Linked DNA regions of Homo sapiens: regions 1 and 3 are each linked to region 2. The links come from fine-mapping of genetic effects on gene expression. A gene starts in region 2. Each other region holds a variant in brackets. All regions are shown on one strand. Distances are between the middles of the regions.

The links. PIP is the estimated chance that this variant, and not a neighbour inherited with it, causes the effect. A credible set is the group of variants that fine-mapping cannot tell apart.
Region 1: its variant is the best candidate, but not a certain one, in a credible set for the expression of ABCC6 in uterus (GTEx, PIP 0.57).
Region 3: its variant is the best candidate, but not a certain one, in a credible set for the expression of ABCC6 in putamen (GTEx, PIP 0.68).

The regions. Positions count from the first base shown.
Region 1 is chr16:16,824,712-16,835,298 of GRCh38, reverse strand. No RefSeq gene overlaps it. Among named protein-coding and RNA genes, the nearest start is that of NPIPA7, 450 kb to the right of the region's middle. The variant G/A (reference allele first, on the strand shown) is at 5,953.
Region 2 is chr16:16,219,760-16,226,454 of GRCh38, reverse strand. It overlaps ABCC6 (ATP binding cassette subfamily C member 6), which reads left to right and starts at 2,961. Exons shown (of 31, transcript NM_001171.6): 1 at 2,961-3,056; 2 at 4,624-4,806; 3 at 6,508-6,633. The coding sequence starts at 3,021.
Region 3 is chr16:16,438,605-16,449,191 of GRCh38, reverse strand. No RefSeq gene overlaps it. Among named protein-coding and RNA genes, the nearest start is that of NPIPA7, 65 kb to the right of the region's middle. The variant T/C (reference allele first, on the strand shown) is at 5,956.

The DNA.
Region 1 (10,587 bases), 610 kb before region 2:
ATTGGAGTCTCATTTACTGTCAAAATGCAAGGGCTAATTACACTTGAAGAACAATTGACTACAAGAGCAAAAAAGACAGGGCCTGTTCAATTAATGGGAAAAGAAAGGGGGTCTCTAGCACACAATATTTTGGACATCAGATTGGAATGGTTTAATTAGCCATTGCTAGGGACTCTGATTGTCCGTTGTCATAGAAGCCATTAGTCATCTGTAGCTTTTAAGCATCTCATTTCAATTCTCTCATTCAACACTTTCTTAGTACCTGTTACATGTCAAGCACTGTGCTCAACATTAGTGATACAGCAAAGTCTAGTGGAAGACAGATGGCTTGAGCCTCTGCATTAGTCAGGGTTTTTTAGAAAAACAAAACAAATAGGATATATAGAGATACACAGGAAGATTTATTATGGCCTCCAGCTCCATCCATGTCCCTGCAAAGGACATGATCTCATTCTTTTTTATGGCTGCATAGTATTCCATGGTATATATGTACCACATTTTCTTTATCCAGTCTATCATTGATGGGCATTTAGGTTGATTTCATGTCTTTGCTATTGTAAATAGTGCTGCAATAAACACGTGTGTGGAAGTGTTTTTTTGTTTTTTTTTTTTTATACTTTAAGTTTTAGGGTACATGTGCATTGTGCAGGTTAAGGAAGTGTTTTTATAATAGAATGGTTTATATTCCTTTGGGTACATACCCAGTAATGGGATTCCTGGGTCAAATAGTATTTCTGTCTTTAGGTCTTGGAGGAATCACCATACTGTCTTCCACAATGGCTAGACTAATTTATGCTCCCACCAACAGTGTATAAGTGTTCCTTTTTTTTTTTTTTTTTTTTTTTTTTGAGATGGAGTCTCACACTGTCACCCAGGCTGGAGTGCAGTGGCGTGATCTTGGCTCACTGCAAGCTCCGCCTCCCAGGTTCATGCCATTCTCCTGCCTCAGCCTCCCAAGTAGCTGGGACTACAGGCTCCCGCCACCATGCCTGGCTAATTTTTTGTATTTTTAGTAGAGACGGAGTTTCACTGTGTTAGCCAGGATGGTCTCGATCTCCTGACCTCATGATCCTACCACCTCGGCCTCCCAAAGTGCTGGGATTACAGGCATGAGCCATTGCGCCAGACCATTCCTTTTTCTCCACAACCTTGCCAGCATTTATTATTTTCTTACCTTTTAATAATAGCCATTCTGACTGGTTTAGATGGTATCTCATTGCAGTTTTGATTTGCATTTCTCTAATGATCAGTGAGTGCCATTACCCTTAGCAAACTAACTCAGGAACAGAAAATTAAATACCGCATGCTCTCACTTATAAGTGGGAGCTAAATAATGAGAACACATAGGTACATAGAAGGGAACAACACACACTGGGGCCTTTTGGAGGGCGGAGGGTGGGAGGAGGGAGAGGATCATGAAAAATAATTAATGGATACTAGGCTTCATTCCTGGGTGATGAAATGATTTGTATAGCAAACCCCCATGACACACATGTACCGATGTAACAAACCCGCACTTGTATTCCTGAGCTTAAAATAAAAGTTAAAAAAAGAAAGATATGAGACATTGGTTTACCTCATTATGGAGTCTGAGAAGTCCCACAATCTACCATCTTCAAACTGTAGAATCAGGAAAGCTGGGGTGTAATTCCAGTGCAAGTCCAAAGTCCTGAGAACCAGGAGAACAATGATGTGCATCCCAGTTTGAGTCTGAAGGCTCAAGAACCTGGAACTCTGATGTCTCAAGGGCAGGAGAGGATGGATGTCTCAGCTCAAGCAGAGAAAACAAACTCACCCTTTCTCTGCCTTTGGTTTTTATTCAGGTTCTCAGTGGACTGAATGATACCAACCCACATTCAGTAGAGTGATCATCTTTACTCAGTCTACTGACTCAAATAGTAACCTCTTCCAGAAACACTCTCACAGACACACCCAGAAATAATGTTTTACCAGCTATCTCGGCACCACTTAGCCCCGTCAAGTTGACATATAAAATTAGTCATCACGCCCCCTTATGGGCATCTCAGATTTGTTATGTCTTCAAAGAGCTCTCATTTTATCCAACCTCATGCTCCTCTGCCAGTTTTCATATTTCAGTAAAAGGCCTCTGCATCTGCCCAGTTGCTCATGGCAAAAACCATCCTTGCTTTCAAAGTCATCCTTGATTTATCTCTGCTAGAACTCATCTTCGATAGATCAACAAGTCCCGTTTGTTTTATCACCAAAGTAGGTCTTGACTTCCACTCTTCTGTAAGCACATGGCCATTACCCTAGTCTAAGGCACCTGCTTTTGTCTGGGTTACTGCAAAAGCCTCCTTACAAAAAAAAAAAAAAAAAAAAAAAGTGAACTTTTTGTGTCTATCCCTGCTTCCCATTTTAATACACACAACATCTAGGGTTGTCTTTTGAAATGGTAAATCATGTTGTGCTATTCCTCTGCTTAAAATCCTTTAATATATTTTCATTTTCTTAGATACAGCCTAGAGTTACTAAAATAGCCTACAAGTTTTCACATGTTCTATCCACACCCACTCCTATAACCTCATCTCAGACCACACTCCTGATTGTTGGCTAAGACTTAGGCCCCTCAAGCACTTTCTTGCCTCCAAGCCTGTGCCCTTGTTCTCATTGCACTTACTCTTTCCCTCATCCATTCCCAAGCCTAGTTCTTTCTCATCTTTCAGGCCTCAATTGAAACATCACTTCTTCAAAGAGGTGGTCCTGACCTCACGATCCAAGTGACCTCTCCCAGTTACTCTCCAGCCCATCACCTTATTTATTTCTTCCACAGCACTCACCCCATTGGTAACCGCCTGACTCATGTGAGTTTGTTGGATGCCATAATCCCCCCTAGTCAATTGGTATCATGACGGCAGGGGCTTTGTCACTCTTGTTCACAGTTGCATTCCCAGTGCCTTGCATGGTGCCTGGCACATAGTAAACTGTCAACCAATATTAATTAACTAAGTGAATGAAGGGGATAATGTGCAGGACAGCATAGGAGCTAAAAAAAAAAATGTAAAAAAAGATACATGTGCACGTATGTTCATTGCAGCACTATTCACAGTAGCAAAGACATGGAATCAACCCAAATGCCCGTCAATGATAGACTGGATCAAGAAAACGTGGTACATATACACCATGGAATACTATGCAGCCATAAAAAAGAATGAGATCATGTCCTTTGCAGGGATATGGATGGAACTGGAAGGCTTTATCCTCAGCAAGCTAACTCAGGAACAGAAAACCAAACACTGCATGTTCTCACTTATAAGTGGGAGCTGAACAATGAGAACACATGGACACAGGGAGGGTAACAACACACACTGGGGCCTGTTGGGGGGGTGGGGTGGGGGGAGGGAGAGCATTAGGAAAAAGAGCTAATGCATGCTGGGCTTAATACCTAGGTGATGGATTGATAGGTGCAACAAACCACCATGGCACATGTTTATCTATGTAACAAACCTGCACAACCTGCACACATACCCCAGAACTTAAAATAAAAATAAAAATAAATTTTTTAAAAAAGATAATGTAAAAAACTCCAACTTCCTTCCTCTAAAGAACATTGTACAATGGTGTTTTTAGGAAAAATAAAATAGCTTCACCAGAAACACACATATCAGATAGGAGATGATACTCACACAAGAACAGAGGCAGGGAGCCCTCACTGCAGAAGCAAGACTCTGAAACCCAAAGAGGAGGAGAGAGAGAGGCTTGAGAACCTAGAGAAAATGTAGCAGAGGGAAAAACCAAAGAAAATGAAAACAGTCTTCATGCCAGTAGTGTGTAAACTCCAGAAAGAGAGCTTTCAATGAAGAGATGCTGTGAGCCAGGCTCATGATATTGAATAGCAGTTTTCTAGATTAACAAGAGGAGTAAATCAAAATCAGGATGAGGGGTAAAGGACTTATGGATTGGAGCATAAAATGCATTATAGCCACAAAGAATGGTTGAACATGCCACAAAAGCACACAGCCACTGATAAACAATGTGGAATATCCAGCTAATTCCAGCATAGTCCAGTGACTCATTAATAGAGGATGGAGGAAAGACGGCCAGGATGATCCCAAATCTCAGTGAAATCAAAGCAAGAGTCAACTCTCCAATACCTGGGAGTGGGTGATTCATAGTTAAATCATCACAGAATCCTGGGATACTCAATGGGGCTTACATTGTAGGAGGTGACGAGTAATATTTTCTGGACCCTAGTGTTGGGAAAAAAGAAGTCCATTATTCTGCTGAGCCCTCAGAGAAAATGAAGGATCACCTCCTCTATAAACAAAGAATTGATTATAGAAGCTTGGCTTTCCTCCTCCCATCCTTCTGAGACTTATAATCAATTCTTATTTAGTTCTCACCTACTTAGCAAATCCCAGCAGAGACTGGAGCATGTCCCAAGTCCTGCTTCCATACTGACCTGGTTAATATTCAAACTGGCTGCTCTTAGATGAGTAAATATTGAACCCAGGGCCAGCTGTAGGTGGGGAGGGAGTAGCAGGAACTGAATGTTTAAGGCGACATTAGAAGAATGGCATTTTATCCTTATAAGTGTGGAAGGACTTTACCCAAGAAAGTGGCCTAGATAGGATGAGAGGAAGTGGCTCTGGCCATGGTGCAGTGCATGGATTGGAGGGAAAGAGCCTGTAGGCAAAATACCTGGGAAATGAAGTGTGAAAAGAAGGGGGAAATTTGAGGCATGTTTGGTAAGTACTGATAAGGAAAGAGTTTGGTTGATTATTGGATGTAACAAGCAGAGATGAGGGAGGATCTGGAATGACACCCACATATTAAGCTTACATCACTGGGTGAATGTGGTTATTCATTAACATCAGTAACACTAAAAGAATAAGTGGATTCAGGAAACATCAAAGACTTTCTCAGTTTTCACATTTCTTCTTGGACGTTCATCACTGCAAGAGTTTCTCCACTCTCCAGTGGTGGACTGTATCACTTGCTCACAATGACTTGCACCCTATCCACTCTAGCCATGCTTCCCATCCCTGCCCTATTGCCATTGGGCTTGGCAGCCAAGGGACGTGTTTTGACTGATGGAATGTGAACAGATATGACAATCACCATATCCAATCAGTAGCTATAAATGAACTCCTGAAATTTGGTTCTGTGCTCTTCAGCCTCTGTCATCTATCATGAGAGTAGCATGCCGCCAAGAGTGGCTGCTCCTTGAGAATACAAGAGGAGAGAGCTCAGCCCAGCCCAGGAGAGCCATGGGTGACCTTTGGCACAGATATAATATAAGCTAGAAACCTACAGCTCTTGGATTTAGGAATTGTTTTTTGCTGCAGCAAAAGCTGATTATGATACTTCCAAAATCTTAGTTAACCCAGAAAGTGACTTACCATCTCTGAATTCCTTATTCCATCATTGGGGAAGTTGAACTAAATGACTCCAAACTCCTTCTTGGTTCAAAAGTGTTTGTTTTTTTAAAGACTGTGTTGCTGTTCTATGATATAATGTTGTTTGGGTGTTCAAGCAATTTTTTTTTCTTTCCAAAGATACAGATAAATAAGACAACTTCAACTTAGCCAGACTCTAGCCTGGCAGTTAACAGTACCAAACTAGGACAAGGCCAAAGTGCAAAGACCTGAGGTGGTTTAAGCTGCTGCAGCAGAACTTGTATTCTGAAGACCCTGAGATTAAAAAAAAAAAAAAAAAAAAAAAAAATCTATAAAGCACAAACGCGCCGCATTCAGCTGCTCCGGTTATTTATATGAGCATTTCCCGATTCAAATTGCATGCTCAAATCAAATTTCCCTGGTTTATGCCTTCTTCAGCAATTACTTAAGGGCAGTTTACCTCTCTCTGGAGGAACACAGCAGAAAGGCCTATAGACAAAATCTCTTTGACTCAGGGAGAGATAAACGCACTCTAGGCTTGGTGTTGCAGAAGTCACTTTGCCTACGGAGGCGAACGCAGATGAGCCTCCTGGCT[G/A]TTTTTCAGCTCGGCTGATAGGAACACATTCTCCAAGGAGGAGGGGGAGGCCTACAGAAATTGTAGGAGAGAGGTTAAGGCTTGGGGATGGGGAGGAAGAAACTACCTTCCCTTTATGGAGTTTCTTTTGTGGGGCTGCTGTGGTTTGGATGTGGTTAGTCTCCCTCAACTCACATTGAAATTTGATCCCCCGTGGGGCAGTATCAGGAAGTGGGGCCTAATGGGAGGTGTTTGTTCACGGGGATGGATCTCCTGTGAATAGATTAATGTCTCTCTCAAGAATGAGTAAGCTCCTACTCTCTCAGGAATGGATTAGCTCATCTGAGAGTGGGTTGTTAAAAAGAGCCTGGCCTCCTTGGTTTCTCTCTCTTGCTCTCTCTCTCACCATGTAATCTCTTTGCATACACCCACTCCCCCTCCACTTTCCACCATGAGTTGAAGCAGTCTGAAGCCCTCACCAGATGCAGATGCCTAATTTTAGACTTTCCAGCCACCAGGATCATAAGCCAAATAATCATCTTTTCTTTATAAATTGCCCAATCTCAGATATTCCATTATAGCAACACAAGGTGGACTAAGACAGAGGGTAGCAGGTCAACAGCTGAAAGCTGCTCCCACTCCAGTGAGATTGAGAAAAGTCAAAGGTGCACAGGGAACACATAATCATTTTTGTACCAAAAAGTTTCTGGACCCTCCAAGATTCACCTTAACCAAGATGAACCTACCACAAAACAATGCAACATTCAAAACCTATGTTCAGTGTGGCATCAGCTTGCCTTTAATTCACTTTTCCCCATTTGGGAGGATTCCCTCATCTGCCATCAAAGAAGCATCATTTGTTCATTTATTTTCTCATTGATTAATTTCCTTAGTCACTAATTCTCCTTTATATTTCCTTCTTCATTCAGTTGTTCAACTTGATAGTCCTTCTCTTGATTTGACTGCCTGACATCTGCTACTTTTTCTTTTAATAACAGCATCCTGGCTTTATTTTGGGAGACAGCTCTCCACTGTTCCCACCACATATGGTAGAGGTGAAGGTGCCCCATAATCCATTTCCTCCTCTCTAGAATCAGATGCACAACACTGACCTGACCAAACAGAATGCCATATTGTCATGGCCAGAGTGATTGGTTTGAGGATAGATGGACATATGGCCCAAGCCTACCCAAGGGAACCCTCCCTGGAACTTTTGGCAGAATTATTAGAAAAGAAAAAAAGAAAAAAAATCCAATAACTCATTGTGAATTAAATAAATCAAGCCAGGAAGGATTAACACAGATAAAATATCCCTAGTTACTAAAACTTATCATGGAAAAAAGAGTCAAGGTAGTTACTTCTGAATCTACCACTTACTAACTTGGAAGACCTTGGACAAATCATCTCAATGAATATGTCTTTGTAGTCATGATAATGACTGTTCTTTGTGGGTAAGCGTCTGTGAATAGGTCCCACCCACTCTCCTATCCAGGTGGCTGGAAGCAAGGAACTTTAAGATGATGGAGTTGCTGCTGGGTGTGGTGGGTCACACCTGTAATCCCAGCACACTGGAAGGCCAAGGTGAGTGGATCACCTGAGGTCAGAAGTTCAAGACCAGGCTGGCCAACATGGCAAAACCCTGTCTCTACTAAAAATAAAAAAAAATAAAAAAACACCTAGCTGGGCGTGGTGGTGGGCGCCTGTAATCCCAGCTACTTGGGAGGCTGAGGCAGGAGAATTTCTTGAACCCAAGAGGCAGAGCTTGCAGTGAGCCGAGATCACGCCACTGCACTCCAGCCTGGGCAATGGAGCGAGACTCTATCTCAAAAAAAAAAAAAAAAAAGACGGAGTTACACAATGGAAACATCCCAGATCCCTGAGTCGAGTCACTGTTCAAGGAGAAAAGCCAAGGAGACTCCTAAACCACCTCTGACTTTGAGGTGAAAGAGACATATGTCTTTGTTACATTAAATTAGAAATGTGGCAATTTGGTTTACTGCTGCACAGCAAGTCTAACTAATATAACAAACATAGGTTCAATTATTCACGGATACCCGAAAGGTAACACAGATACCATGGCTTTATGACATGAAGCCATTTTGTCAAGACATGACTTTGAATGGTGCCTTCTGCCAAGACATGACTTTGAATGGGCAGGTGTCTAGCAACAGAGGAAGCAGATGCTCTTTCTGCTGACCAGCATCTTATTTCCAGGATGCTTCAGTGGTTTGTGAGGACAAGAATATTTGAAATTGGGATTGGTCCTATAGTCCACCATGAGTATGTGGTGATTATAAAATAATCTCAATGTGCCATTGGGAAAAGATAAGGACCAACAATTCAACCATGGAAATGGGTAAATGTGGACAAACCACCTAAGATAATGGCATGCTGAAAAGAGGGCAGCAGAGATGAGTCAGATTTAAGACGCTGTAAAAATCGAGAAAGAGAAGATGAATTCAATAACAGGAATGGCAGTATCTGCTGCAATGGAGGAAATAAAGGCATAGTGACTGAAATCATAAGCTTTGGAATCAGTTTAATGCAACAAGGATTAATGCAAAAATTTAATGCAATAGTGTTTGAATTCCATTTCTGCTACTGACTAGCTGTGTAATCTTGAGCAAGTCACTTTATCTCTCAGCCTGAATTTTCTCATCTGAAATATAAGGATTAAGAGAGTCCTTACCCTGCCTCATGGAGTACTGAAAGGATGAAACTAAATGATCCATGTAAAGTGCTTAGTACACAGTAAGAGCTCAATAAATTATCATAATGATATTGGCATTGTAAAAGAAAGCATGAACAAAGAGGTATATCTGGAAGAGATGAAGAAATTAAAAGGAGAAAGAGGGTGGTAAGGTCGTTAGGGTGGGAGCCAAGCGCCACCACCAATGAATGAAAGGGCAGAAACAAAGAATCAGCACCACCATTTAGCACTTTATTTTATTGTCTTTGAATTATGATAGCTTTGATTTGGCTAACTGCAAAAAGTACAGGTTTAAACTGGACTTGCCTTTAGTTAAAATAAAGGCAAATAAATTTTTAAAACATAAATGCTATATTTCACAAGAAATCAGTTGTTATTATCAATTACATATTCAGTTTTTTAAAGGAAGATGACTGTTAAACCACATAGCATTTGGGGGACATTAAAGGAAATTTTCTTCCTCTATAGAGCATTGTACAATGATGTTTTTATGAAAAATAAAATATCTTCACCAGAAATAAAAGGGTATATCAAATGGGAGATGATACTTAGACAAGAACAGAGGCAGGGAGCCCTCACTGCACAAGCAAGACTCTGAAATCCACAGAGGAGGAGAGAGAGAGGCATGAGAATCTAGAGACAATGTAGCAGAGGGAAAAAACAAAGAAAATGAAAACAGTCTTCATGCCAGTAGTGTGTGAACTCCCGAAGGAGAAGAAGTCCAGAAGGGGGTAAAGAATAGAGACAGAGATGAGAGGGGTAAGTAAAACACAGGAAGTCAAAGGAGGAGAGCTGAGTCCAAAGAAAGCTTTGAAAGGTTGACTGAAACACAGAGATGTAGGAGAAGCACAGCTTAAAGCAGAAACAAGCACTAGAAATAGCTTAAATACACAGAACAGGAGAATTTTTAATGACTGCATGGGTTTCTGAATTCCCAAAAGCTCTGGAAACCAAATTTTTTAAAATTAAGGTTGGCACAAATTCATTTGGCAACAAAACTTGACCAGAACTGAAATGAGGCTATTTATGTCCTTTATTTATCTCACATCCCACCTAGCATGAACATCCACATATTTAACGGCAGTAATGAGCTGACCAGGAAGTGCTACTGCAGACCCCACTGAAAGTGGGATGTTGTGGAATGTATAGTTTATGCTCCACATTACCTTTCTAATTTCCATAACATTCTGAATTTTAAAACATGTGTCCCCAAGGGTTTCCAATCAAGGATTGCGAGCTTCTATTAGAAGATACAAAGCTGGGTACAGTGGCTCATCTTCGTAATCCCAGCTCTTCAGGAGACTGGAGGATTGCCTGAGGTCAGACTTTCAAGACCAGCCTGCACAACTAAGACCTCATCTCTAAAAAATAAAAACTTAGCTAGGCATGAAGGTGCACATCTGCAGTCCCAGCACCTCAAGGGCTGAGAGTCCTGAACCCTCAAGGGCTGATGCAGGAGGATTCGCTTGAGCCCAGGAGTTCGAGGCTGCAATGAGTTATGATCACAGCACTGCACTTCAGCCTGGGAGACAGAGAAAGAGATCCGATCTCTAAAAAACAAAGATGACAATGATGATGATGATGATGAAGACAATGATGACACAGGACTGGACTGAAAAGAGATACTTGTTTCTAATGAAGTTAACAAAACGTGCCATTTCTTGAGTATATAGCACTTACAATACCAAGTGCTATAGACTCAATATTTCATTTAATCCTCACACTGTATCAGATTTCATTTTATTTATTTATTTATTTATTTTGTAGACACTGCAAGTGAGGTTTGAGAACTGAAGTAATTTGCACCCCCACATCCTGTTTATACAAAGCTGGCAAGAGGCAGAGTTTAGGATTTGAACCCAGCTATGTGACTTTAGAGCATGAACACCTACTAGGTCATGCTGCTGAAACCATGCCCCACAGGGTTAAAGAAACCGGTGACTAAC
Region 2 (6,695 bases):
TTCCCAGGATATAATGAATAATATCACAGGGTGTACACCCACTGTGATATTAGAGGAATTAATATCTCCCCAAAATATAATGAATAATATTACAGAATGTTCACCCACTGTGATATTAGGAATAATAATACCTCCCCAGGATATAACCAATAATATCACAGGGTGTACACCCACTGTGCTATTAGGAGTAATAATATCTCCCCAGGATATTACAAATAATATTACAGGATGTACACCCACTGTGACAATATGGGTAATATCTCCCAGGATATTATGAATAATATCACAGGGTATACACTTACTGTGATATTAGGAGTAATAATATCTCCCCAGGATATAATGAATAGTATCACAAGGCGTACAGCCACTGTGATACTAGGAGTAATATAGTAGTATCTCCCCAGGATATAACAAATAATATCACAAGGTGTACATGCACTGTGATATTAAAGGAAATAATATCTCTTCAGGATATAATGAATAATATCACAAAGTATACACCCACTGTGATATTAGGGGTAATATTATATCTCCAAGATATAGTGAATAATATCACAGGGGGTACACCCACAGTATATTAGGGGTAATAGTATATCCCCAGAATATAACGAATAATATCACAGGGTGTACACCCACCGTGACAATATGGATAATATCTTCCAGGATGTTACGAATAGTATCAAAGAGTATACACCCACTGTGATATTAGGGGCAATATCTCCACAGAATATTACAAATAATATCAAAAGATGTACACGCACTGTGACATTAGGGGTAATATCACCCAAAAATATTACAAATAATATCACAGCATGTACACAATGGTGTACGTTCATTGTGATATTATGATATCCATAGGGTATTACAAATAATAGCACAGGGTGTACCCCCACTGTGATATTAGGAGTCATATCTTTCTGGGAGGTCACAGCGTGTACACGCATGGTGTAAATTCACTGGGATATTAGGAGTAATATCGCCCTAGAATATTTCGAATCATATCACAGGGTGTACACCCACTGTGATATTAAAAGGAATATCTTTCTAGAACATTACAAATAGTATCACAAGGTGTACACCCACTATGAGATTAGGAGTAACATCTCCCTAGAATATTATGAATAATATCACAGTGTGTACAGGCACTGTGATTTTAGGAGTACTACCTTCTTAAGATATTATGAATAATATCATAGGGTATACACCCACTGTGAAATTAAAAGCAATAGCTCCCTACGATATTACGAATAATATCACGCAGTGTACACTCAAGGTGATATTAGGAGTAGTATCTCCCTAGGAAATTACGAATATTATCACAGAGTGTACACCCACTGTGATATTGAAAGTATTATCTTTCTAGGATATTATGAATAATATTACAGGGTGTACTCCCTCTGTGATATTAGGAGTTATATCTCCCTAGGATATTACAAATCATATCACAGGGTGTACACCCACTGTGGTATTAGGTGTAGTATCTCCCTAGGATATAACAAATAATATCACAGGGTATACACCTACGGTTATATCAGGAGTTATATCTTCATAGAATATTATGAATAATATCACAGGGTGTACACCCTCTGTGATATTAAAAGTAATATCTTTCTAGGATAGTATGAATAATATCACAGGGTGTACTCTCACTGTGATATTAGCGGTAATAACTCCCTAGGATATCACGAATTCTATGACAGAGTGTACACCCACCATGAGATTTGGAGTAATATATCTCTAGCATATTATGAATAATATCACAGGTTGTACACCTACTGTGATATTAGGAGTAAAATCTCCCTCGGATATTACAAATAATATCACAGTGTGTACTCCCACTGTGATATTAGGAGTAAAATCTCCTTCAGATATTACGAATAATATCACAGGATGTACACCCACTGTGATATTAGGAGTAATATCTCCCTTGGATATTTCTAATAATACCACAGCGTTTACACACATGGTGTTCACCCACTGGGATGTTAGGATAATATCTCCCTTGGATATTACCAATCGTATCAGAGGCTGTACACACGTGGTGTTCACCCAGCGTGATATTAGGAATAATATCTCCCTCGGATATTAGGAACAGTCTCTCCCTGGGACTTAGCAGAACGTAGCCCCCCAGTGTTAAATAAGCGACCACAGCAAGAGGTAGAGGCGCAGGGACTGAAATGAAGACAAATATCTGACAAGTTTAAAACACGTATTTAAAATAGAATTTATAAAATGCTTAATCTGCCGACTCAGGAGCCCGCGGTGCAGGGTGGGGTGGGAGTTGGCAGGTGACCGCTACACCAGCAGAGTAAGACTGCAGGGCTGCGGCCCTCCCTCCTATGCCCTTCTGTTCAGACACCCGAGGGGCCCATGTGCACTCCTGGGATCATACGACCAGAAAACAGGACCCTAGAGGTTTCTTGAGTTTCTGCTTACCAGGGCGGCTGGGTATAGCCCTGCCAGCCCATTGCATAATCTTCTAAGTTCTCCCCACCACCCTCCATTCCAGCAGCGAGGTGCCTGTGACGCGGTCTCCATCCTCTCGGCCTCGACCCGGTGGTCCCCGCGATTGGACGCTTAGGCGGTCACCAGGCCTCCTTGTTACTAACGTGTGCACACCTTTCAGTTCTCTCATCAGGATGAACTCCTGGAAATTGCTGGGTCCAAAGTGTTTAGGAAGTCTGGAGTGATTCTTGTTGCAGGGGGAAGAGGGAACTATGGAGGTGTCACTGAACTTTCAGGGGTTCCGGGACCCCCCAACCCGGTGCCCGTCCCAGCTCCCCGAGCGCCTCTCTTCCCCCATCCCCCACCTCGCCTGTTTTCACCTCCCGTGGCCTCACTCCCGCCGCGCAGCTGGACCTTGCCCGGGGCCTCCCGATCCCGGAGCTCGAATCCCAGCCGGACCAGCCCAGCCCGACCAGCCCAGCCCCGCCTCTTCTCCGGCAGGATCGCGGCCGAGCAGTCTGCCCAGAGACTTAGCGACAGACAGACGCTGGGACCCACGACGACAGAAGGCGCCGATGGCCGCGCCTGCTGAGCCCTGCGCGGGGCAGGGGGTGAGTGCCCCCCATCGCGCCCCACTCTCCTTTTCCAGGCTTGGTTTGGCTGCAGATCTCTCGGGCTGCGATACTGGGGAGAGGAGAGACCCCCAAATTCCTGGACCCGGGAAGCGAGGAGACTTACTCCGGCCCCCTCACTGCAGCGGGTTGGATTTCTTTCACCAAGCCAGCAGCCGAGAGCCCAGCTCTATTTAAGGGGCCACCAGACCTCCCAGCTACTAGGGGCTTTGACTCTTCTTTGCATAAAGCTAGTGGGTCCCCCAAGCCCTCCTACCCCCGGAGAGCCCTTACCTCTCTGGTTTCTTTTTCCATTGCTCTTAGCAAAGGACTCCAGGGAGTGGAGTTCATGGAGTGGGGGTGGGGGTTGCAAACTGCCAGCATTTCGAGGGCCAGGGAGTTGAAGCAATAAACTGGCAATGAACTGAGGGCTTTCTCTGTGCCTAGCCTTGTGCCCAACCTTGTGCCATGCTGCTATGAACTTTGCTGCTATTAATCCATTTAATACAACTCATAGAGGTAGAGTCTCGTTTTCCCCCTTTTACAGGGAAGGAAACTGAGATACAGAGAGGTTAAAGTTTGCACAGCCGGTGAGTTGTGAAACCAGGAGGAGTAAAAAGACAGCGGAGAGAGAATTGAAGAGGCCACGTCCACTAAACTTCAAATTTCTTCTAGGGTTAGATAGGACCAGCAGACCTGCTGAGATGAAAATAACAGATCAAGCTGGGCCGGTGGCTCTTGCCTGTAATCCCAGTACCTAGGAGGCTGAGGCAGGAGGATTGCTTGAGACCAGGAGTTCGAGACCAGCATAGAGAGACCCCCATCTCTACAAAACATAAAAAAAAAAAATTAGCCAGGCCTGGTGAGGCTGCTTATGCCTGTAATCCCAGCACTCTGGGAGGCCGAGGTGGGAGGATTGCTTGAGCCCAGGAAATTCGAAGCTTTGTTGAGCTTTGATTGTGCCACTTCAGCCTGGGCAACAGAGTGAGACCCTGTCTCTAAAACATAAATTAATTAATAATAAAAAATAAAAACAAATCATACATCAAGACCACCAGTCGAACGAGGTTTGGGGTCAGATAAGCCTGGGTCAGAGTCAGCTTTGCCACTTCCCATTTGTGTGTCCCTGGGGGAGGCAGTTCCCCGACTGGTGCCTCAGTCTGCTGGTTTCTGAAATGGAGACAGTACTGTCTGCGTCCTGGAGTTGTTATAAGGATTAACTGACAGTCCATGCCTAGCAATGATTATGGAGCCCAGGTCTCCTAGACCACATGGCCCAGTTCCCTGGGTTCAAATCCCAGCCCTTCCACTCCTCAGCTGGGTAAAGTCAGCAAAGTTACTCAACCTCTCTGGTCCTCAGCTTCTTCATCTGCAAATCAATATAATTGCAACTACCTAGGGTTAATGTCAGGATGAAAGGAATTGAGAATTAGTAGGTATTCCAAAGAGTACTTGGTACATTTTTGTGTAAATGTTAAAGATCCAAAAAGTTGCCTGGCCCCCTGGGCAGGTGAGCTGGGGACCCCTGCCTTGTACCATCCTAAGGGTCCTCTTTGTGTTCCCTCAGGTCTGGAACCAGACAGAGCCTGAACCTGCCGCCACCAGCCTGCTGAGCCTGTGCTTCCTGAGAACAGCAGGGGTCTGGGTACCCCCCATGTACCTCTGGGTCCTTGGTCCCATCTACCTCCTCTTCATCCACCACCATGGCCGGGGCTACCTCCGGATGTCCCCACTCTTCAAAGCCAAGATGGTAGCTGCCATCCCTGGGAGCCTGGAACCAGGCAATGTTCGGGGGAGGCAGGGGACAGGCTGGAACCTGGTGAAGTCTTAAAGTAGACTCCTCCTATCGGGGTGTAGAAGGGAATCTGTTAATCAAACAGAGCAATATTAGAAAGGCTACAGAGGTCAACTCAGTGGAACACGGTTCTCCCAAACAGATTTTGTAATTCCGAAAATCCACGCATGCGCAAACATACGCATACACTCCCATGTTCCTGGACAGTTTATAGCTACCATAACCTGGCATTTTCCAAAACATACCATGTAGACTCTTGGATACACAAGGTAATTTTAGAGCCACATTAGGATGAACCTTTTAAAAAGTTATGCATTTATTTTTATGTTCCCCCACTGGCTGTATTATAGGACAATTTTTATATGTGATATGTATTTACCTTAGTGTGTTAAATAAACACTGGCATTCCAAGTGTGAGCCTTTCTGCTCATCCATCCTCTTCTACTCCATTCTTGTAGGCTTCCAAAGAATGTTCTTCAGAGTTCATTCATTCTTCTGCCATTGTATTAATTTTTACATTATCACCCGCCACCAACCCAGGGGTTGGCAAACTTAAAGAGCCAAGCGGTACACAGTATTTGAGACTTTGTGAGCCAGGTAATCTTCCTTCCGAACACTGAACTCTGCCATTCCAGAATGAACGCAATAGTCATAACCATAGACAATAGTCATGACTGTGTTACTTTTTTGTTTGTTTTTTTTTTTTGAGATGCAGTTTTGCTCTTGTTACCCAGGCTGGAGTGCAATGGTGCGATCTCGGCTCACTGCAACCTCCGCCTCCTGGGTTCAAGTGATTCTCCTGCCTCAGCTTCCCGAGTAGCTGGGATTACAGGTGCCCACCCCCACACCTCGCTATTTTTTTGTATTTTTAGTAGAAACAGGGTTTCGCCATGTTGGCCAGGCTGGTCTCCAACTCCTGACCTCAGGTGATCTGCCTGCCTTGGCCTGCCAAAGTGCTGGGATTACAGGTGTAAGCCACCACCCCCGGCCGACTGCGTTTCAATAAAACTTTATTTGTAGTCACTGAAATTTGGATTTCATGTAATTTTCACCTGTCATGACATATGCTTTTTGTTTTTCTTTGATGATTGATAGTTTGCCAACTTCTGCTTTAAACTGAGGTTCTTTGAGCAGTTCCTCCAACGTAACCTAGCTCTGGCCTTCCCTCTGGTGTGCCCACGTTCTCTCATTTTCTTCCTTTCTTTTATTCAATAGAGAAACCAAAATATATTAGAGAGACCCTAGAGACTTACTGGCCCAACAGAGAGTTGCTCCTTGATTTCATAGCAGGGATTGAAAAATGACTTGGAGAAAGGATAGTTTTTTACCTGGTGAGTACATTTCATTTCCTGCTGTTTCTCCATACCCACAGTCATCTCATATGTGCACGATTGGAGCACTTCCTGCATTTTGGAAAACACTCGGTTGGCTCAAGCCCTTCCTGTGCATTATTTATATGACAGTTACAGGTCAGGAGTGATCTGCAATGCCCTTTACACATTGTTCACATTGGCACGTTGCTAGCTGGTGACCCTGGTATACTCAGTATCAGCCAGGATGTTGCAGAACCAGCTCCCAGTTGGACATGGGGCCGCCTACCAGTTTGCTGTGACCTCTCTTATTGCCCCCCAAGCTTATCTAAGCCTGTATCCTCAGGTGCTTGGATTCGCCCTCATAGTCCTGTGTACCTCCAGCGTGGCTGTCGCTCTTTGGAAAATCCAACAGGGAACGCCTGAGGCCCCAGAATTCCTCATTCATCCTACTGTGTGGCTCACCACGATGGTAATGATGCCTTCAGTCTGGAGCCCGGCTTCCTCCCAGCTGCTGCTTTGCCTGCCACAGTG
Region 3 (10,587 bases), 220 kb before region 2:
CCAACCATAGCAGACACTGGCAATGGCCACCCATGTCCCTTGGACCCTCCCCATCCCATACAAGCTGAAGGCATCCCTCTGCAAGCACCTGCAACTCCCCACCTGAAGGCCTTTTCTTGGCCTCGGCAAGACAGGCCAGAAGTTCAAGGATGTCAAAGTCCCTGAGAGCATCCCTTGGTCAATGTCAGATGAGTGATGAAAGATAAATATCTCAGTTTTCTCAACACTCAGGTGGGACAATTTGAGGTGTGTTCCATGCCATCAACCAAAGCCCATCAAAAGGACCAAGCCCCGGCTGCCCATAGAAGTAACTTACTCATTACCTTGCTCTATTCTGGTTTAGATTTCCTTGTCTCATTTTGCCCTGTGATGGTTAATTTTATGTGTCAACCTGACTGGGACGCTGAGTGCCCAGATAATTGGTAAAACATTATTCTGGGTGTTCCCGTGAAGGTGTTTTCAGACGAGATTAACATTTAAATGGGTAGACGGAGGAAAGCAGGTTGCACTCCAGATGTGCATGGTCCTCATCCAATCAGTTGAAGGTCTAAATAGAACAAAAGGCCAACCCTTGCCTGAGTCAGAGAGATCTCCTCCTGCCTGAGGGCCTTCAAGCTGAAACGTCAAAATTTTCCTGCCTTTAGACTCAAACTGAAACACGGCTCTTTCTGGATCTCAAGCCTGCTGGTTTTCAGACTGGAACTACACCACTGGGTCTCCTGGGTCTCCAGCTTACTGACTCATCCTGCAGATCTTAGGACTTGTCAGCCTCCATAATTGCATACACACACACACACACATATATATAAAAGTGCATATAGATACATATATGTATGTGAATGTATGTATATAAAAGTGCATATAGATACATATATGTATGTGTATATATATATATACACACATACACACACATATGTGTGTGTACATATACATGTGTGTATATATACACACATGTATATGTGTGTATATATACACACATGTATATGTGTGTATACACACACACACACACACACACACACACATATATATATATATATATATATATATATGGACCATAGAGAAGTCTCTAAGCCAAAGCTGGGGACAGGGGAATCCTGTGTCTCCTGGGGAGAGGTCTGCTTTAGTGTCCCTGCCATGCTCAGTCATTAGCCAGGAGCACCTCATGGAAGGAAGCATATGGATTCCCCATATGCTTATATATGTGTGTGTGTGTGTGTGTGTGTATGTATATGCATATGTGTGTGTGTATGTGTGTGTGCTATTCTATTGGTTCTACTTCTCTAAAGAACCCTGACTAATACACTCCCATTCTCCTACTGGTGCTTCCCAGAGTCACCCTACAAATAAACCATTACATGGAAATCCTCATCACAGGATCTGCCTCTGGGAAAACCCAGCCTAAGACATCCATGACTTTCATAGGAGAAGAAAGAGCTCTAGAATTGGCAGCCTTACTGAACCATGTGGAAGAGGAAAGGAGAGCACCTAAACAAAAGGGTATTAACCAATTAAAATAACCTAAACCCACACTTGTCCAAATTGCTGAGCAAGTGGGATGGAATGGAACAACTTTCAACCAGTGTCCAAATATTGCTGTGACTCCTAGACTGGCTTGACACAAAGGCAGTGTCCACCAGCTCTAAACATCCATCTCAACTAAGATTTCTCCAGGAAGGCTAGAACTGACACCCTCTGCTTAGGTTCTCAGTGACTTCACCCAGCCAGCAAAGGAGCTCTTAGGAAGGCAGACAAGCCCTGAAGTCTGTCTGCTCAGACTCCAGCTACCTGCTCTATTCCTGCTTTATCAACCTCTAGCTTAGTCGCTCAATCTCCAGCTTTGCTCCTTCCCATTAGATTCTATGGCTGAACCTGACTGCCATAGTTTGTTTCTCAGATGAATTTAAGGCAAGGGTTGCAAACTTAAATGCACACATGGGCAGACAAGTAACACAAATGAGTGAAGAGTACAGATTAGGGCAACTGGGTCTGGTGGAGACTGTGGCAAACTAGAGAGCACACACCTTATCTAAGGAGGCAGCGAGGACTCAATTTTGCAAGATTTGTGGAATGGACTCCCAATGTTGCCAAACTGCCACTATTTTTTAAAGAGAAGCAGGAAATCCAGGGGTTTTTAAAGATGTAAAATACACAGTTTGTTGAATGCTGGCAACTGATTTTTTTTTTTTTTTTTGAGACAAGAGTCTCACTCTGTTGCCCAGGCTGGAGTGCAGTGGCATGATCGCAGCTCACTGCAGCCTCCTCCTCCCACATTCAAGAAATTCTCCTGCCTCAGCCTCCTAAGTAGCTGGGATTACAGGGGTGCACCACCATACCCAGCTAATTTTTGTATTTTTAGTAGAGATGAGGTTTCCCCCTTGTTGGCCACGCTGGTCTCCAGCTCCTAATCTCAAGTGATCTGCCTGCCTTGGCCTCCCAGAATGCTGGAGTTACAGGTGTGAGCCACAGCACCCAGCCCTGATTTTTTTTAATGTAAATACTGTATGAACCCAGACAAATGTTCTGCCAGGCCACTGCTGCATGGCTCACCATGTGGTGGCCCTGAGAATGGGCCTCATCGACCTCCCTCTACTGGGAGTGTAATTAACCAGGGCCCCAGCTGCTGCGCTGGGGAATCCATATGCTTCCTTCCATGAGGTGCTCCTGGCTAATGACTGAGCATGGCAGGGACACTAAAGCAGACCCCTCCCCGGGAGACACAGGATTCCCCTGTCCCCGGCTTTGGCTTAGGGACTTCCCTATGGTGTTCGCACCCTAACTTTTTTCTCCTCTCTCTTTTACTCAGAGTCAGACTTGCATTACTGTCTCAGGTTCTCCCAGCTTTATGTGGCACCTTCTTTGCTTTCTCTCAAGGGCATTTCCCTTAATAAAAATCACATATGTGTAATCCTGTATGGGAGTTTGTTTCTCAGAACTGGGCTGACACACCATCTTGCAACTCTGCTTTCGGCATTCAGCTCACACTTACTTACACCCTCCAAACTCCAACTATTTAGGGCTAATTCCATTCCAGCTCCCACCCCTTGAATCCCTTCCCCCCTCCCCCCACTTCCTCCTCCCATTCTGCTTTCCTGGAAACAGCATTTCCACTTACTTTTGAACAATGGTCCTTCCTTCACTGTTCATTCATGGAGTTTGGATAGCACCATCTTCTAAAGCTAGAGCTGAGCACATGATCAGGACTGACTAATCACCCTCTTCTACTTCCTTAGCCACAATAATTCGTTCAGAGATGGGCACCTGACTCTTACAATGCAATGAGAGTCAGCTTCTTATGCCAGTGCTTTTGGCAAAGGTAAGTTCATTTTCCCCTGGGATTACTAAGCTGGTAGGAGGTAAGTCAGCAGCTGCTGATGGCATAAGAAAAGGGCCTGATAATGAAGCCAACATGGATGAAAAGAGAGCTGAGAAGTAGAGATCAGACAGATTTCAAAGCATATCATTTAAGCATCTGGATCCAGCCATACTTGAAGTCCAGTCTATCTGTGGGCTTTGAAGTTGCATGGAACAATAGCAAGATGTAGCTGAGAGAGTTTTGGCTAATATACCACCTCACCTCTCATTCAGTTTCATGGAATATAACAGACATTGCCAACTAAAATTTACAAACAGCATTGATATAAAAGCTCCGCCATTTAAAAAAGGAAACTTTCTATTCTTTCACTGTGTGGCCTTGGGAAATTTCTAATCCGTTCTGAACTTCAGCTTTTTTCCCTCTCAAATGTAGCAAATACAACATAACTTGCTTGCCATGGAGGGAAATCAGATGCCCTTATCTAGGAAAGTAAAGATAGAGGTATAAAACATTGTTATTTCAAAAAAAAAAAAATCCAGCACATAAGTCTAGGAGCATTGAACAAGGGTCAGATTGCATGGATTCAGATTCCAGCTCCATTACTAACTGGCTGTGTGACCTTGGACAACTCAATTGACCTCTCTGGCCCTCAGTTTCCTTATCAGTAAGACGGAAACTCCAATCGTATCTATTGCACGGGATAGTTGTAGAAATTAATAGATACATAAGTGCTTAGTGCAACATGTGGCACTCAAAATATGTGTGGTATGATTGTTATTGACACAATGGTTGACCCATGAATGACTGTGATGCCAACCCCCTCACAGTTGGAAATCCACCTATAACTTTTGACTCCCCCAAAACGTAGCTACTAATAACCTATTGTTGACCAGAAGTCTTACCAATAACACAAACAATATACACATATGTTGTATTTTATATGATTATACACTGTATTTTTACAATAAAATAAGCTAGAGAAAACAATATATGATTAAGAAAATCATAAGGAAGAGAAAATGTATTTATTATTCATTAAGTGGAAGTGGATCATCATAAATGTCTTCATCCTCATTGTCTTCACATTGAGGAGACTGAGGAAGAGGAGGAAGAGGAGGAATTGGTTTCGCCGTCTCAGAGGTGGCAAAAACAGAAAAAAATCCATGTATAAGTGGACCCATGCGGTTCAAATCCATGTTGTTCAAGGGCCAACTGTATTTATATTACAATAAATGCTGTTAATGTTGTCACTGTTGACCCTTCTAGTCCATTCCCAACATCACTTCCTATGCCCAGTGGAAAATTCCATCTTAAAATCACCCAGCCCAAGCCCTCTTCAGTAGACTCAGATAGATGGCTTGTCAAGGGCATGACTTAACTTCTCCAAACACAACCAGCCCAGTTTCAACTGCCATTTGGGGAACTTTCCCAATTACCACATTTCCGCACATCAAGTATGAATTACTTTAATTGCCCCAGAAGAACGCACTGTTGAAACATTTGACTTGCCCAGAACTAATTGTCTGTCAAAAAGAGATTTTGCAGCCAAGCTGATCTCTTCATTGGACATCTAATTTAACTGAAAACCTTTTTCCCTGCTTGTTTTATGCTTTCTTCTCCTGTTTTTGCCAAATTCTGGATGCTGGGCACTGCTTTCAGAAATAATTTATCTTGTTATTTTCTATTATAAATGTAATACATGTTCATTATAGAAAAACTGAAAAAAAAAAATTCCAAATGAAGAAAAACAGTTGATCCTAGACTCATTGCCCAGAGGAAGACTATGAACATTCCACATGAAGAAAAACAGTGGCTCCTAGACTCATTGCCCAGAGGAAGACTATGAACATTCCACATGAAGAAAAACAGTTGATCCTAGACTCATTGCCCAGAGGAGGACTATGAACATTCCAAATGAAGAAAAACAGTGGCTCCTAGACTCATTGCCCAGAGGAAGACTATGAACATTCCACATGAAGAAAAACAGTTGATCCTAGACTCATTGCCCAGAGGAGGACTATGAACATTCCAAATGAAGAAAAACAGTGGATCCTAGACTCATCGCCCAGAGAAAGACTATGAACATTTTAGCACGTCTCCCTCCCAGGTTTCCTAGAATAGATGTCTGTACATAGTTAATAAAAACATATATTCAAGTTTTGCAGCTTTTTGTTCCACTTTACATTTTAAGTTGAACGTTTACACTTCCCATTCCAAGATCTTCAGAAACATGTTTAGAAACAGAAGAGTATCCCAACAACAGTCTGTTTAACCTCTTCCCCTAATGCTGAACTATTGTTGCTTTAAGAATACATTTTCTGTGTGTGTTTCAGATGTAGTTTCCTTAGGAAAGATTCTCTATGCTGTGCAACAATTCCCCATGTGTCTCTTACATTTCTGCACATCTTGTGTCAGCTTTTGTTCTAGACCGTCTTTATAAGGATGTTTGTATAGCTAATAGCATTAGAAGATAGGGCTAGTATAGTAGAAGACAGATTTATTTGCTGATTAGGATTATAATAATAATATCTCCGGACCAGGCGCAGTGGCTCATGCCTGTAATCCCACCAATTTGTGAGGCTGAGGCAGGCAGATGACCTGAGGTTGGGAGTTCGAGACCAGCCTGGCCAATATGGTGAAAC[T/C]GCCATCTCTACTACAAACACTTAAAAAATTAGCTGGGTGTGGTGGTGGGCGCCTGTAATCCCAGCTACTTGGGAGACAGGTGGGAGAATTGCTTGAACCCAAGAGGCAGGGGTTGCAATGAGCTAAGATCATTCCACTGCACTCCAACATTGGTGTGACAGAGCAAGACTCTACCTCAAAAAAACAAAAAACAAAAAAAGAAGAAGAAAAAGAAAAAGAAAGGATTATAATGACAATGTCTCCCTCCATCCAGGGTAAAGGTTGAAAAGACCAAGATTCCTAAACTTGGGGTTCCTCAGGTGTGATGCAAATCCACTGCAGGCACAGATTCTACCTGGATCCATCCATGTATTACTCATTTCTCACACTGCTAATAAAAACATACCCAAGGCTGGGTGTGGTGTCTCACACCTGTAATCCTAACACCTTGGGAGGCCGAGGTGGGCAGATTGCCTGAGCTCAGGAGTTTGAGACCAGCCTGGGCAACATGGTGAAACCTCATCTCTACTAAAATACAAAAAATTAGCCAGGTATTGTGGTGCACACCTATAATCCTAGCTACTCAGGAGGCTGAGGTGGGAGAATCGCTTGAACCCGGGAGGTGGAGGTTGCAGTGAGCCAAGAATGCGCCACTGCACTCCAGCCTGGGCGACAGAGTGAGACTCTGTCTCAAAAAAAGAAAAAAAAAAGGCTAGGCATGGCTGTAATCTCAGCACTTTGGGATGCTGAGGTGGGCAGATCACCTGAGGTCAGGAGTTCAAGACCAGCCTGACCAACATGGAGAAACCCCATCTCTACTAGATACACAAAATTAGCTGGGTGTGGTGGTACATGGCTGTAATCCCAGCTACTCAGGAGGCTGAGGCAGGACAATTGCTTGAACCTGGGAGGCAGAGGTTGGGGTGAGCTGAGATCCTGCCATTGCACTCCAGCCTGGGCGACAAGAGTGAAACTCTGTCTCAAAAAAAACAAAAAAACAAACAAATGAAAAACATACCCTAGACTGAGTAATTCATAAAGGAAAGAGATTTAATTGACTCAGGGAGGCCTCGGGAAACTTACAATCATGGCAGAAGGGAAAGCAAACATGTCCTTCTTCACATGGCGGCAGAAAGGGGAAGAATGAGCAAAAGAAGAAAAAGCCCCTTATAAAACCATCAGATTTTGTGAGAACTCATTCACTATCATAAGAACAGCATGAAGATAACTGCCCCCATGATTAAATTACCTCCCACTGGGTCCCTTCCATGACACATGGGGATTGTGGGAACTACAATTCAAGATGAGATTTGGGTGGGGACACAGCCAAACCATGTCAACCTGTGTCACCCTTGAGGGACTTGGGGGTCAAAGGGAACTGGTGCAGACATGAAGCTCAAGCTTCCTGTTGTGCCATGAAAAATAAAGTCCTTTATCTCTCAATCCAGAGTCTCATGTCTTCTGCCCACATCCATAAAACTCACTAGCCTCCATGTAGGATAATATCTTAGACCAGCACAGTTCTTGACACTCTAGAAGTGAATTTGTTGGATCAAAAAGCATGAACAATTGCTAAAACTCTTAATATGTCTTGTCAATTAGCTCTCCAAACAAATGAGTCATTGCCTGAAATCTCTTTTGTCCTCAGGAAGGGATAGAGCTGCTTGACTCAGATCTCCCAGGTGGCCTTAGACCGTAATGTCTTCCTTTCGTGCAGAGCTCTTACCATCCTAAGCCACTACTCCTACCTAATATTCTATAAAAAGCTTTTTCTCCCTACCCAGTGTCTCCAATGAGCTGACTTTCTTTTCTGGATTACTCTTTTATGTAATAAAAAGTAGACATGAGGGTCAAACAGAAAGGGAAAAAGGGGAATTTGTTTAATTTCTACCAAGTGCCAGGCATAGTACAAAGAACATTTAGATAAGGCAGAAGGCATTAATTATTTTTATCTACCCAGAACCCCCTGCCCCACCTAAGCACCCCAGCCCCTGACCTGGCCACGTGGGTGGCTATGTGACCTGAGCTGAACCAATCAGAGTCCTTCCCTGGGATTTTTTTCACATCATAACCACATGAGAAGGTCTCCCATTATGAAACAGAGAAGCTTGTTGGCAGCCATGGTTCTAGCCAAGGATGGAAAAAACAACCAAAAAAAGAAAAGAAACAAAAAAAAACCCACCATGGTAAAAAAATACATATATAAAAATAAAAAAGATATGACAGACAGACAGACATGGGGAATGGTCTCTTTCCAGTTGCCCCTGCCACTCAACTGCTCTCCTACCTTCCTGGATTTGGTTATGAGAGTCAATAAATTATCCCCTTTTATTGCCTAAATGACTTCCATATGAGTTTCTGCTCCTTGCAACCAACATAATCTTGACAATTAATAGTAGCTAGCATTTTGTGAGTGTTTACTGTGCCATGCCCATTAATACACCTAATCCTCTCTACAATTGGACAGGTAAGGTGCTTTTAGTAACCTCCAATGTACAAAAAGGAAAACAAGTTGGGTGAAGTGAAATGACTTGCTCACAGTCGCTGGGCTAACAAGGGGGCAGAGTCAAAGTTTAAACCCAGAGCCCATACTCTTCCCTATTGTATAACACAGACATGCTGTCTCTGTTCCCAGTGCTGGGGAATGCAGAGAACTGGGGACTGAAGGAAGAGCAGGCGTTCAGGTAAGCATTAATCAGGGGACCTTCCACAAGGGAAAAGGGAGTACTGGCCCAGTTGAAGTCCAGCCAGCACTCAGCATGGTCAAGGATGGGGTGGTGCTCTCTCCAGCCATTCAAGGTGCTGAGAAAAGAACAGAACTTTCATCTGAGGAATACAAGCCTTTTAAATTATTAGGCCCAGAGAGGCAATAGAATGAGATAGCAATCATGTCCTACATACCCCCTTTGAGCTCGGTATTCATTTCTTAAAACTGCTTGCCATTGCCACAAGTAGCTATAAATTAATCTAATAATGCCCCACTGGATGCTATAACCCACACCTCATAGCTTAACAATGTATAGCCAATCACTCGTCAATGTTATTTCTGAAAACCAGTGAGAATTCCTGACAACCAACTGTGTACCAGCCCACTCCATGTCCCCCTTTTTTGCCTTTATAAATCCACTTGTAACTGCTGCTAATTGGAGTGTATATTCAGGGAAACTTGAATCTACGCTCCCTGGCTACAGTCCTCAAGCTTGGCCCAAACAGAGTCTTTACTTACATTAATTTTGCCTCAGCTTCTTCCTTTTAGGTTGACAGTGCTACAGGCTGAATTATGTCCCCCTAAAATTCAAATTTGAATAAATGTTCAAATATGAATTTGAGGCCAGGCACAGTGGCTCATGCCTGTAATCCCAGTACTCTGGGAGGCCGAGGTGGGCAGATCATCTTAGGTCAGCAGTTTGAGACCAGCCTGGCCAACATGGCGAAACCCCATCTCTACTAAAAATACAAAAATTAGCCAGGTGTGGTGACGCATGCCTATCATCCCAGCTACTTGGGAGGCCAGGATAGGAGAATCACTTGAACCTGGGAGGTGGAAGTGGCAGTGAGCCAAGATCGCACCACTGCACTCCAGCCTAGGCGACAGAACGAGACTCTGTCTCTCTCTCTCTGTCTCTCTGTCTCTCTCTCTCTCTCTCTCTCTCTCTCTCTCTCTCTCTCTCTCTCTATATATATATATATATATATATATATATATATATATATATATGAATTTGAAGCCCTTCAACCATATGGATCATATGTTGAAGTCCTAACCCCCTAGCACCTCAGACTGTCATTGTATTTGGAGATAGGGGCTTTAAATAGGTGATTAAGTTTAAACCTATTTAGCTCATTTAGGGTGAGCTCTAATCCAATCAGACTCGTGTTCTTATAGGAAGAGGAGATTAGGACACACAGAGAGACACCAGGGATGGACAGGCACAGAGGAAAGACCATCTGAGGACACACCAGAATCGACCATCTGCAAGCCAAGAGGAGGTCTTCGGAGGAACCAACCCTGCTGACACCCTGATCTCAGACTTCCAGCCTCCAGAATTGTGAGAAAATTAATCTCTGTCATTTAAGCCACCCAGTCTGTAGTACTTTGTTATGGCAGCTCCAGCAAACTATATCTACAGGAATCCATCACCACTTATGACAGGCTCTGCCACATAGTAGGTGTGTGTGCACACACCACACACAAACATGTTTAGAATATGAAATCTGTGAACCCTACTCCCACACTGATAACAGTTCAGGAACAGTTGATTTTCCCTCAGGGAATCTGGTTTGTTTTCCTAGTTTCCATCCCATCAAGACCCCTTCCCACCTGCTGGGAAATACTTGCCTGAACCCCTCGTTCCTTTCACAACACACACCTGATGGTAGGAAGAAGCTTCCAACTCTGATATTGACAGGGTGCTTGTAACCTAGCACCCTTTCTCCTACCTTGTTATGGAAAAATAAATCCTTTATCCTATTTCAACTACAGTCTTGGCAAAGGAAAAAACAAAACAAAAAAGGAAACCAGCCTAGAAATGGAAACCAAAGATCATGAACAGTGCTATGCTGAGTTACAGCTAAGGGTTGGCCTTTCTGGAGCTGGCTGCCTTCAGATGGCAGGGCTCTGAGAGTGTGTGTGTGTGTGTGTGTGTGTGTGT